3 linked regions of the Homo sapiens genome follow. The protein of the gene in region 1 purifies or fractionates together with the protein of each later gene. This does not show direct contact. Each region holds a gene or a part of one and is shown in the gene's direction. Other genes may lie near its edges.

Region 1 (3,649 bases):
TCATGTAAGTAATTCTAATTTCTAGCCCCTCTGGGTAGATTTTTAGTAGGATGTTCTCTTCAGGAGGTTGAAGGTTATTTTTTATTTTCAAGGATACTATAATACAGACTCATGATTTGCTGTTTTTAGCAATTACCTTGTGAATGTTGTTCTGCAGATACAGTGAATTTGAGTGCTGGATCTTTTTGTTTGTTTGTAGGGGTAAGAGGACTTCTTGTTTTACAATGGCTTCCCTAAGAGATACCTGGGCTTGTCAGCAAAGCAGCTAATAAAACACTGGCCTATTCTTTTTATCTGATTATCACTTGAGAGGGGCTGGGAAGTATCTTTTGAGGGAAAAGGTCTCTGGCACTGTAGGATTTGGGTTGGGTGAGACTTCAGCCACTGTCTTTTACAAATCAGAATTAGACAGGGTGCAAGTTGAGTGACAGGGCTGGCACCTATTCTCTGGGTCCGTGGTTGTGGTGCCACACCTTGATAGGAGTCATACATTTCAGGGCAGGGTGAATGGGAGTGACAGCCATGGGTGGTGAAGCAGGAATGTATGGAAGGGACTGGTTTTGCTAGTATTTGCAGTTTTTTTGTTGTTGTTGTTTTTGTGATGGAGTCTTGCATTGCAGAGGCACGATCTCAGCTCACTGCAACTTCTGCCTCCTGGGTTAAAGCAATTCTCCTGGTCTGGCGCAGTGGCTCATGCCTGTAATCCCAGCACTTTGGGAGGCCAAAACAGGCGGATCACGAGGTCAGGAGATTGTAGACCATCCTGGCTAACAAGGTGAAGCTGAGGCAGGAGAATGGCATGAACCTGGGAGGCAAAGCTTGCAGTGAGCTGAGATCGTGCCACCGCACTCCAGCCTGGGTGACCAAGTGAGACTCCGTCTCAAAAAAAAAAAAGCAATTCTCCTGCTCAGACTCCTGAGTAGCTGGGATTACAGGCGCCTGCCACCACGCCCGGCTAATTTTTTGTATTTTTAGTAGAGACGGGGTTTCACCATGTTGGCCAGGCTGCTCTGGAACTCCTGATCTCAGGTGATCTCCCTGCCTTGGCCTCCCAAAGTACTGGGATTATAGGTGTGAGCCACCACGCCCAGCCTATTTGCAGTTTTTAAGATGGAGAAAAAGGAATCCTACACAATGAATTGGGTTTTCTTTGATAAATTATCACTAAGCTGAGGGTTCTACATTTGATTGGTAATGTGCCCAGAGTTGATATTTTATTCTGCATGTACTAATTTTTTTCTGGTTTTTGGAGGTGTTCTCTAACCAAAACTGAACACTTTCTGGTAGCTAAAAACTGGTGTCTCTTTCCAGCTTCATATTTTTATAAGGCTGATAATGCTGTCCACTGAACAGGACTATTTCTTGGTAGGACATAGAGATGGTCACTGTTCTCATTGTAGTTCCCGTGCAAGAAAATGGAGACATCATGGGATAGGGTGTTGTCATTGTAGGTTTAAGAATTGTCATTCTGGCCGGGCGTGGTGGCTCATGCCTGTAATCCCAGCACTTTGGGAGGCTGAGGCTGGTAGATCACCTGAGGTCAGGAGTTTGAGACTAACCTTGCCAACATGGTAAAACCTCATCTCTATTAAAAAAAAAAAAAAAAAACACAAAAATCAGCTGGGCATGGTGGCACGCACCTGTAATCCCAGCTACTCGGGAGGCTGAGGCAGGACAATCACTTGAATCTGGGAGGTGGAGGCTGTGGTGAGCCGAGATCACGCCACTGTACCCCAGCCTGGTGACAAAGCGAGACTCTGTCTCAAAAAAAAAAATAAAATAGGCCGGGTGCGGTGGCTCACACCTGTAACCCCAGCACTTTGGGAGGCCGAGGCAGGCGGATCACGTCAGGAGATCAAGAGCATCCTGGCTAACACAGTGAAACCCCGTCTCTACTAAAAATACAAAAAATTAGCTGGGCATGGTGGCGGGCGCCTGTAGTCCCAGCTACTCGGGAGGCTGAGGCAGGAAAATGGTGTGAACCCGGGAGGCGCAGGTTGCAGTGAGCCGAGATCGCGTCACTGCACTCCAACCTGGGTGACAGAGTGAGACTCCATCTCAAAAAAAAAAAAAAATAATAGTAATTGTCATTTCATGTTTATTTGTCTGTTCTCCCTGATTACTGGGGGTGTGTTAATGGAAGGGCATGTTATCCTCCCCCATTTGTTTAGACTGAGGAAGGATAGTAGGGAGCATTGTGAGCTATAAAGACAGTTTCTCTTTGGTTGAGCAATGGTGTGTTGGTGATTACAGGTCGTCATTATAAATAAAATGAATTTTGTTTTCAAGAGACAGGGTCTAGCTGTGTTGCCCAAGCTGGTCTCGAATTCCTGGGCTTAAGTGATCCACCCACCTAGGCCTCCCAAAATGCTGGGATTACAGGCATGTGCCACTGTGCCCGGCCACCTTACGTTTAAAGAGGAGAAATTCATGGTCCTTTCAAAGTTACTGAAGTTTAACAATGAACAAATTGGATTTCTCATAACACTTTTGGAATGTACATTTTGGGATATATAGATATATATGGAATGTACATATTTAGCTTTAACTTTTCAAAATGCTTAAAAATTCAAGTTTAATGGTATGCCCTTTTTTTTTTAAGTGGAAATTGATGACTTGAAAAAAATTACCAATTCACTGACTGTGCTTTGCAGTGAAAAACAGAAGCAAGAAAAGGTAAGAGCAAGCTGTGTAGGGAAATGGGTATTAAATTAGAGTGGGGTTATAGGTCTAACAGTCAACAAATATAATAGGAGCCTGTCCTAATTAAAAGTCAAGCAACTCACTAATACCATTTAAGTTAGACTAGAAGAGGAGTATGGGTGCTATTACTGTCCTTTTGTTTCCAGACATGTTCCCCTTTTCTGAGTTAATAGAAATTGCTGAAATCACAGACTGGGTTCAAATACTAGCACTGCTACTTAATAGGTATAGGTAAATCAGCTTTTCTAAGCTTCAGTCTTCTCCCTTCTAAAATAGGAACAATAATACTCACTTTGCAGAGTATTTATAAGAGTAAAGTAAGAGAAGTATGTCAAGTAAAGGTTAGAGCTTTGTGATTTTAAATTGGGGGGTACTTATCCACACTTTTCTAAATTTGCTTCAGTGAAGTTAAGGCTGTCTACCAATAACTTATAACCCCTGCTGGTGGGCTAGGTATCCAGAGCAGGACCAAGGACCCAGATCAAGTTTTGGAGAGACTGACTCTGGGAGACCTGTTCAGGTCCAAAACATGTAGGCTCGGATGTCCCTTACAGAACTAGTGTTTCTGGGACCAAAGGTTTTTGTGTGTTTGTTTATGAGGGTTGCTGTACCAGATAAGATGCCCATAGCACACTAAGGTTCATGAATTAACTCTCTTTCATCTTTAGCAAAGCAAAGCCAAAAAGAAGAAGAAAGGTGTGGTTCCTGGAGGGGGATTAAAAGCCACCATGAAAGATGATCTGGCAGATTATGGTGGTTATGATGGAGGATATGTACAAGACTATGAAGACTTCATGTGACATTTTATCTTTTCTTGGTGTCATCTTTATGTTGCCCACAATCCCTTGAACATGTAGCACAACTTCCTTTCCTTTCAGTTCTGCCAAATGCTACAATCAGAAGTGCAGTATCTTTTGTGCTGGTTATTTAACCCCTTGACACTTAG
Region 2 (3,649 bases), on another chromosome or scaffold:
CCTGACCCTCCAGTTCCATTGCTTTTCCAGAGGTGGGACTTCCTTCTGGTCATTGCCCAGAGTTGGCTTGTCTTGTCTTGACCTATGTTCTTTTTGGAGTCTGATATGGAACTCATAGCTCCCTCAACTCCTTCTCTCCCTCTCCCCCTTCCCCACCAGGGGCGTTCCACATACGTTGTCCCGACACAGCAGTACCCTGTGCAGCCAGGAGCCCCAGGCTTCTATCCAGGTGCAAGCCCTACAGAATTTGGGACCTACGGTAAGCAGGGGAGGGAGTCAGAGGTGAGAACAAGCCCAAGGGAGCATCTAAACTCATCTGCTGATTTCTAAAGCAGAAGACCCTTCCCAGGCTTGGCTTCTGGTCTAAAAATGATAAGGTTAATAGGTGGTAGGGATTGGTGCTTAATATTTAACTGGTGTTGATTGTGGGGAGAAAATTTGATTTTATTGCCAGGAGAGTTAAGAGTCTTTCCCACATCAGGGAATGTAGGATCAGGCACCAGCCTGAGAGCCTATTAGTAGGCTTTCCCTGTGACACTTCTTCCATGGTTGGGAGCCCATGTAATGCAAATTTGGGAGGTTTTTGTAGCTATTTTTTATTTATGTTCTAGGGAAGGATTAGTCTGTTCTTTATGGCAGTGGCTTCCAAGTTTTTTGATCACCTATCAGGAAAAGTTTTGAGTATGAATCTCTCATACATGTATGTTTTTGTTTATATGTATGCAAAATTTAAACAAATACACTTGTGCTTGTCAAAAACAAGTGGAATTTAGGGATGAAATTAAAGAATGTGCCCGGATCTTGCTTGTAATCCCAGCACTTTGGGAGTCAGGAGGACTGCTTAAGGCCAGGAGTTTGAGACCAGCCTGGGAAACTTAGTGAGACCCTGTCTCTATTTTAAAATTTGAGGGGGGCTGAGCACGGTGGCTCACGCCTGTAGTCCCAGCACTTTGGGAGGCCAAGACAGGCGGATCACTTGAGGTCAGGTGTTCGAGACCAGCCTGGCCAACATAGTGAAGCTCCGTCTCTACTAAATTTTATTGTTATTATTTTAATTTTCTTTTTGAGACGGAGTCTCGCTCTGTCACCCAGGCTGGAATGTAGTCGCACAGTCTTGGCTCTCTGCAGCCTCCGCCTCTTGGGTTCAAGTGATTCTCCTGCCTCAGCCTCCCGAGTAGCTGGGATTACAGGCGTGTGCCACCACACCCAGCTAATTTTTGTGTTTTTAGTAGAGATGGTGTTTCATCATGTTGACCAGGCTGGTCTCGAACTCCTGGCCTCAAGTGATCCACCTGCCTCAGCCTCCCAAAGTGCTGAGATTATAGGCGTGAGCCACCACGCCTGGCCCTGTCTCAACTAAAAATACAAAAATTAGGCCTGGTGATGCACTCTTGTAATCCCAGCTATTCGGGAGGCTGAGGCAGGAGGATCGCTTGAACCCGGGATGTGGAGATTGCAGTGAACCAAGATTGTGCCACTGTATTCCAGCCTGGGCAATAGAGTGAGACTCCATCTCAAAAAAAAAAAAAAATTAAGGGGAAAAAAGAACTCACCCACTTTGGAGATAGTTTGCTTTAAGGAATTAATTTTTCTTCATCTTGAGCCTAGTTCATAATGTTACTTTGTTTCTTTGCCCCTTTGTAAAGGGCTGGAGACAGGAACTAGACTCAAGTTAAATGGAACAGGGTTGGCAGATCTCTTTCTCTCATTACCAGCCAAAGACCTGGTTCTGTTTCAGGTTCAGAGTATGTGTGTACATGTTGATAGCGGGTGGGGTACACACACGAGAGTAACTTGTACGGTGGAAGGACAGACATAAGTCCTCCTGGTCACTGGTGTGTGGTAGGAAAGAGTGCCTGCCTACGAGGGGTGTGTGTGTGTGTGTGTGTGTGTGTGTGTGTGTGTGTGTTTGTGTGTGTGTGTGTGTTAGGAATTCTTGTAAACGCAGTTCAGACTGGTTCCCCAGCTTTGACAGACACCTAATTCCCTGGGGGAGGAGGGCAGGGCAGGGCAAGGCAAGGGGCCGGCTGTGGGTGGTGAGAGGTTTTGGGGTGGGAGGTGTCAGGCAGGCATTAGTATATGGTTGGGCCCTGACGCTACCACCATTCTTCTCCGTCCCCCCTCCCCCAAGCTGGCGCCTACTATCCAGCCCAAGGGGTGCAGCAGTTTCCCACTGGCGTGGCCCCCACCCCAGTTTTGATGAACCAGCCACCCCAGATTGCTCCCAAGAGGGAGCGTAAGACGGTGAGTAGCAGTGAGGGGCTCCGGGACATCTGGGAAGGGGAGAATCAAGGTCAGGTGCTGCTGGGACATTGTGCCGGAAAGAGCAGTGACTTGAGGAGGAAGGAGCTGAGAGTGGGCAGAGAATGGTGTCTGTGGAGGGCTCAGGTTCTTTGTAAGATGCTAAGATTTCAGCATAGAAGCAGGTCATGGGAAGACTGAAGTGCCTAGCGAGGAAGTTCCTGCGAGACCTGGGTGCTGGGGGGTTGGAAGAACTATGCTTGGTTTTGGGTTTCTAGTGGCTTGCCTTGGAAATGGTTTGTTTTCTGTGGCCCCAGCCCCCATTCCCCCCTGCCCCCCCAGTCCTGGAAGCTCTCAAGGCCTCCGCCTCTGCTCAGTCCTCAAGCCCTGGGCGTGGTGCCCAGAATAGGGTGCCAGAGCTGGGGAAGCCGCTGAGTCACCCTGGCTCCACCTACTGGATCTGGGCCCTGCCCCCAGAGATCAGGCACACTAGCCACAAGTGAGCCGATTGGGTTCTAGATGGGGGTCCTGGGCCCCAGGGTGTGCAGCCACTGACTTGGGGACTGCTGGTGGGGTAGGGATGAGGGAGGGAGGGGCATTGTGATGTACAGGGCTGCTCTGTGAGATCAAGGGTCTCTTAAGGGTGGGAGCTGGGGCAGGGACTACGAGAGCAGCCAGATGGGCTGAAAGTGGAACTCAAGGGGTTTCTGGCACCTACCTACCTGCTTCCCGCTGGGGGGTGGGGAGTTGGCCCAGAGTCTTAAGATTGGGGCAGGGTGGAGAGGTGGGCTCTTCCTGCTTCCCACTCATCTTATAGCTTTCTTTCCCCAGATCCGAATTCGAGATCCAAACCAAGGAGGAAAGGATATCACAGAGGAGATCATGTCTGGGGCCCGCACTGCCTCCACACCCACCCCTCCCCAGGTACTGTCTGCTTTTCGAGTGATACCCTGGCTGGGATGTCTGTTCTGCCCTGGACTCCCAAGTCCCTGGATCTTTTCTTTCAACTAAGGGATTTATTTCCCTGCTTTCCTGGATTTCTAGGCAGAGCTAAAGTAGAAATGGCTCTAGTAAAGAAGGGTTGTGGGACTCTTCAGTGCAAACTTGGTAACCCTTTGTGTCCTGCAGACGGGAGGCGGTCTGGAGCCTCAAGCTAATGGGGAGACGCCCCAGGTTGCTGTCATTGTCCGGCCAGGTAAGTAAGCCGGTGGGACGGAGCTTTTATGGGGAAAGGGAATGTTAACAGTTAAATGCTGAGGTGGTGGAGTGACTTGAACTGGGTACCAGAGAATGATGACTTAGATTTCAGGTTGTGGGATTTTGAGGGTGAATTGGGTTTTGGATGAAAGTGGAAGTATAGCTTAGGTGGGGAGAAGATGATGCGGGGTTATTAAGTTGGGAATGCCTG
Region 3 (3,393 bases), on another chromosome or scaffold:
AGATGGCCGAGGCCAGGGTTCCACCAGCAAGGAGATTGCAGTGTCCTAAAGACAAACAGACACACTGTAATGAAACCTGCACACATCAGGACTCTTTCTTGTCACCTTTGTATTCCTGGCTCCTAGTACAGTCCCAGGAACATTATAGTTGGGCACTAAATATTTAATGTGCATGAATGAATGTGAGCAAAGGGTGATACCATGCCAAGTGCTGTGATAAAGCCCAGATGGGGGCCTCTGCATCCACCTGGGGGACAGGAGGAAGAGTCTCTGGAAGAAGGTCGTCAGGGCTGGGTTTTGAGCCAGAACTATCCCAGCAGAGACCAGGAGCATGGGGCTCTTAGCAGTTCAAGGAGGGTGATGTGAGGCAGCGAGGCCAAGCTCTAATCAGACCGTGGGCAACTTGCTTAACAAGCTGGGCCCTGGTTTTCTCCGTGACGAAAGAAAAGGCTCCACTAGGTGGACACTGGCATTCAGAACATCATTCCAGATTCCCCAAAAACCATATAGTCCCACCTTCTCATTTCACAGGCAGGAAACTGAGTCACAGATGGGGCTGTTCCCTGCCCAGCCCCTTCGAGGAAAGCATGCGGGCTTTCCTTTCCTGAATGAGTCTGTGTCAAAGCTTCCTGTTCACAGTGTTTACTTTCTACACGCTTGCCCCCTAATTCTCACTTTCTCTTTTCTTTCCATTGATCTTGTCACTTTTTTATTTTCGGGGGGTGGCGGATGTGCTGTTCTGTCATCTCCCACTTTCCCATCACCTGATTCCTCCACCTGTCCACACGTGCCTGACTCCATCACATGCCGGGGCCGGACTGCGCTCTTCCCACGCCTGGTGGAATGGTCGCTGGGCACTCCCAGTCGCTGGAGGAGCCGCTACTATGGAAAAGGACGCTACGGCCACCCTGACTTTAAGAGCTCCTGTCCGATTCTGGAGGAATAGTGTGTTCCTGTTACTTCCTTCGCTGGCTGCCTGTCTCTGGTTTTCCTGACACAAGCCCTGCTTCCTTTCTGTCGCCGCTTCCCAGCTTCTCCCATCTTTGTGTCATTTATTCTCGCAAACCAAAGTGAGGTTTCTGCAGCTGAAATGGCTTCCAGCAAGGGTCACACAGGCTTGCATTTTTCGCTGGGTGAGAGAAGAGCCACAGCATGTGGCGGGGCCTTTGTCCACACCATGAGTGAATGGGTGGCTTGTCCCTGGGTCGGAGAAAATTCTGGTCATTGATTTGAGCCCCCAGGATCCCAGTCCCCCTGGCCAGAGCTCAAGAGAAGAGAATCCAGTTAAGCAGAAATACTCTTGGAAGTAGATTTTACTCGTCAAGGGCTAAGGAGCTGTGGGCATGTTCCATCCTCTTTATAAACGTGCTGCAACTGTGCCCTGCGGGAGCTTAGAGAGGGTTCTTTGTGCCCAGGATCCCTTCTGAGCATGCAGTGCAGCCAAGCCTGGGGGATGGAGTCCAGGATGGCCCTTTCTCTCTGGAAGAGAAAGGGAGTCCCCTGCCCAGCTGCTCTGGCCAGACCTCTAGCTCCCGACAGGCTCTGCATTGGGGCTATGATTCTGATGCTGTTCTTTGCTTTCTTCTCTTTCCCTCTGTAGGTTGTAGGCCTGGCTGCCTTGCATGCACCAGGGGCTTTCTTCCTCCTAATCAACAACTCAGCACCGTGACTTCTGCTAAAATGCAAAATGAGATGCGGGCACTAACCCAGGGGATGCCACCTCTGCTGCTCCAGTCGTCTCTCTCGAGGCTACTTCTTTTGCTTTGTTTTAAAAACTGGCCCTCTGCCCTCTCCACGTGGCCTGCATATGCCCAAGTAACTGCTCTCAGAGGATCCCACTAACTGAGCTCCCTCCAAGGCAGTCTGGGCAGCTTCTAACTACCTTCCTGGACATGACTGATTGCTCCCGTGTTCTTCTGAGGGCTGGTCTTGTTTTTGTTTGGGTGGCTCTGTCTCACTGCTAACACCTTAGTGAGATGCCTTCCACCCTCCTGAGCACACCAGCCTCCCACTGGGTGTGTGCCTAGTGCGGGGCGGGCGGAGGTTGGGAGGGTGTTGGCTTGGCTTTTAACCTGTGGGGATTTTGTCCAACAAGGAGTGGAATGATTTCAGAGCTGCCCTGAGGCTGGCACCCTGGTCACAGGAACCCTCTGCGCTGGCTCCTGTCTCAGTCCCCTCTGTAGAGTTAGATCAGAAGACACAGAAAGTTCTGTGGCCATGAAAGATACCAGCTTGGAAGGGTTGTGTCTTCAGTGGCACCCTCAGAAAAATTGTCTTAAAGCAAAGAGGTACCTGGCTCCAGACAATTTTTCTGATGAAAACAAAGTCTCTGCCCCGTCCCCACCCTGCCACCCTGGCAAAGTTACTTCCTTTACAGCTGCCCAGTGTACCATAGACCAGACCCCAGGTCAGCATTTGTCAAGAGCATGGCTGCTGAGTCCCCTGTGGCAGTCAATGCACTGTTTACCAAATGCAGGTTTCTGTTCTCCCTCCCCAGCAAGACCTGCTGAACCCAGATCTCTGGAATGGGGCCCTAGGAATTTGCATTTCAACCTGCTTCCCAGGTGGCCCTGATGCACCCCAGTATTAGAGTTTATTGCTAAAAGGAACATGCCCTGTCACTCCTGGTATCCTGGGAGTCATGTTTCTCTTCTCTCTCAGTTCTACTTGGAGCAAGAGCTTTCCTGGGCTGCAAATGAGAAAACAATTCCTAGGAACCCACAGCAGTACTGAGCATGCTGGGAGCTTGGGACTTGGAGATGAATGAGCCACCGTTGCTGCTCCAAGTAGGACTACTTGGAGTGTAGCTGAGGCCTTGGACGCAGTATGACCAGGGGCAGCTCTGCCAGGGCTGTTGGCCAATCAGTCATTTTCATTTCTTGTTGGAGGCCAGGTCCTCTGCTGAACTCATTTCCTAGCTAGTGTTACCCTAATTCTGATGAAGATCAATGGGGCTATAATTCTTGTTTTTGTTCCTCTTTGCAGCATTAACAGCAGCAAAGTTGTACCCCGGTTTGAAAGGTTTGGCTTGGGCGTCCTGGAGTCCAGTAATCCAAAGATGTAGCCAGCCATATGGTTTTTCGCTGCTGATCTCTTTCTTTTTAAAATGTGTTTCTGAAACATCCCAACAACCACCACGACAAAAAAACACTGCCTGCCCAGCGCTGCAAACCAGGAGCACACGTCCTAGATTCAGACTGTTGGCCATAAACCCCACTCGGGAGATGGAGCTGCACCTGCTATTTCTTAAAATGACACCACCAACAACCAAACCTGTCATGACAGACAGCAAATGTTTACACGTATATTTCTCCTGAGTGAACCTGATGTTTTACAATAGGTAATAATAAAAACAGTCTGTGCAGATGCACTGGCACTGACGGCCAGGATGGC

The links.
Region 2: the proteins of EIF3J (region 1) and EIF4G1 purify together in Homo sapiens (affinity purification with western blotting; 3 studies listed by BioGRID and IntAct, with this or other methods). This does not show direct contact.
Region 3: the proteins of EIF3J (region 1) and KSR1 purify together in Homo sapiens (co-immunoprecipitation; one large-scale study listed by IntAct). This does not show direct contact.

Annotation. Positions count from the first base shown.
Region 1 is NC_000015.10:44,557,647-44,561,295, forward strand, and holds part of EIF3J (eukaryotic translation initiation factor 3 subunit J), read left to right. Parts: coding exon 1-4; intron 5-2,602; coding exon 2,603-2,676; intron 2,677-3,371; coding exon 3,372-3,503; 3' UTR 3,504-3,649. UniProt on the Homo sapiens protein: Component of the eukaryotic translation initiation factor 3 (eIF-3) complex, which is required for several steps in the initiation of protein synthesis.
Region 2 is NC_000003.12:184,317,558-184,321,206, forward strand, and holds part of EIF4G1 (eukaryotic translation initiation factor 4 gamma 1), read left to right. Parts: intron 1-159; coding exon 160-259; intron 260-2,131; coding exon 2,132-2,244; intron 2,245-2,705; exon of another isoform or gene 2,706-3,072; coding exon 3,073-3,165; intron 3,166-3,369; coding exon 3,370-3,436; intron 3,437-3,649.
Region 3 is NC_000017.11:27,620,329-27,623,721, forward strand, and holds part of KSR1 (kinase suppressor of Ras 1), read left to right. Parts: intron 1-864; coding exon 865-945; intron 946-1,600; coding exon of another isoform or gene 1,601-1,607; exon of another isoform or gene 1,608-2,985; coding exon 2,986-3,064; 3' UTR 3,065-3,393.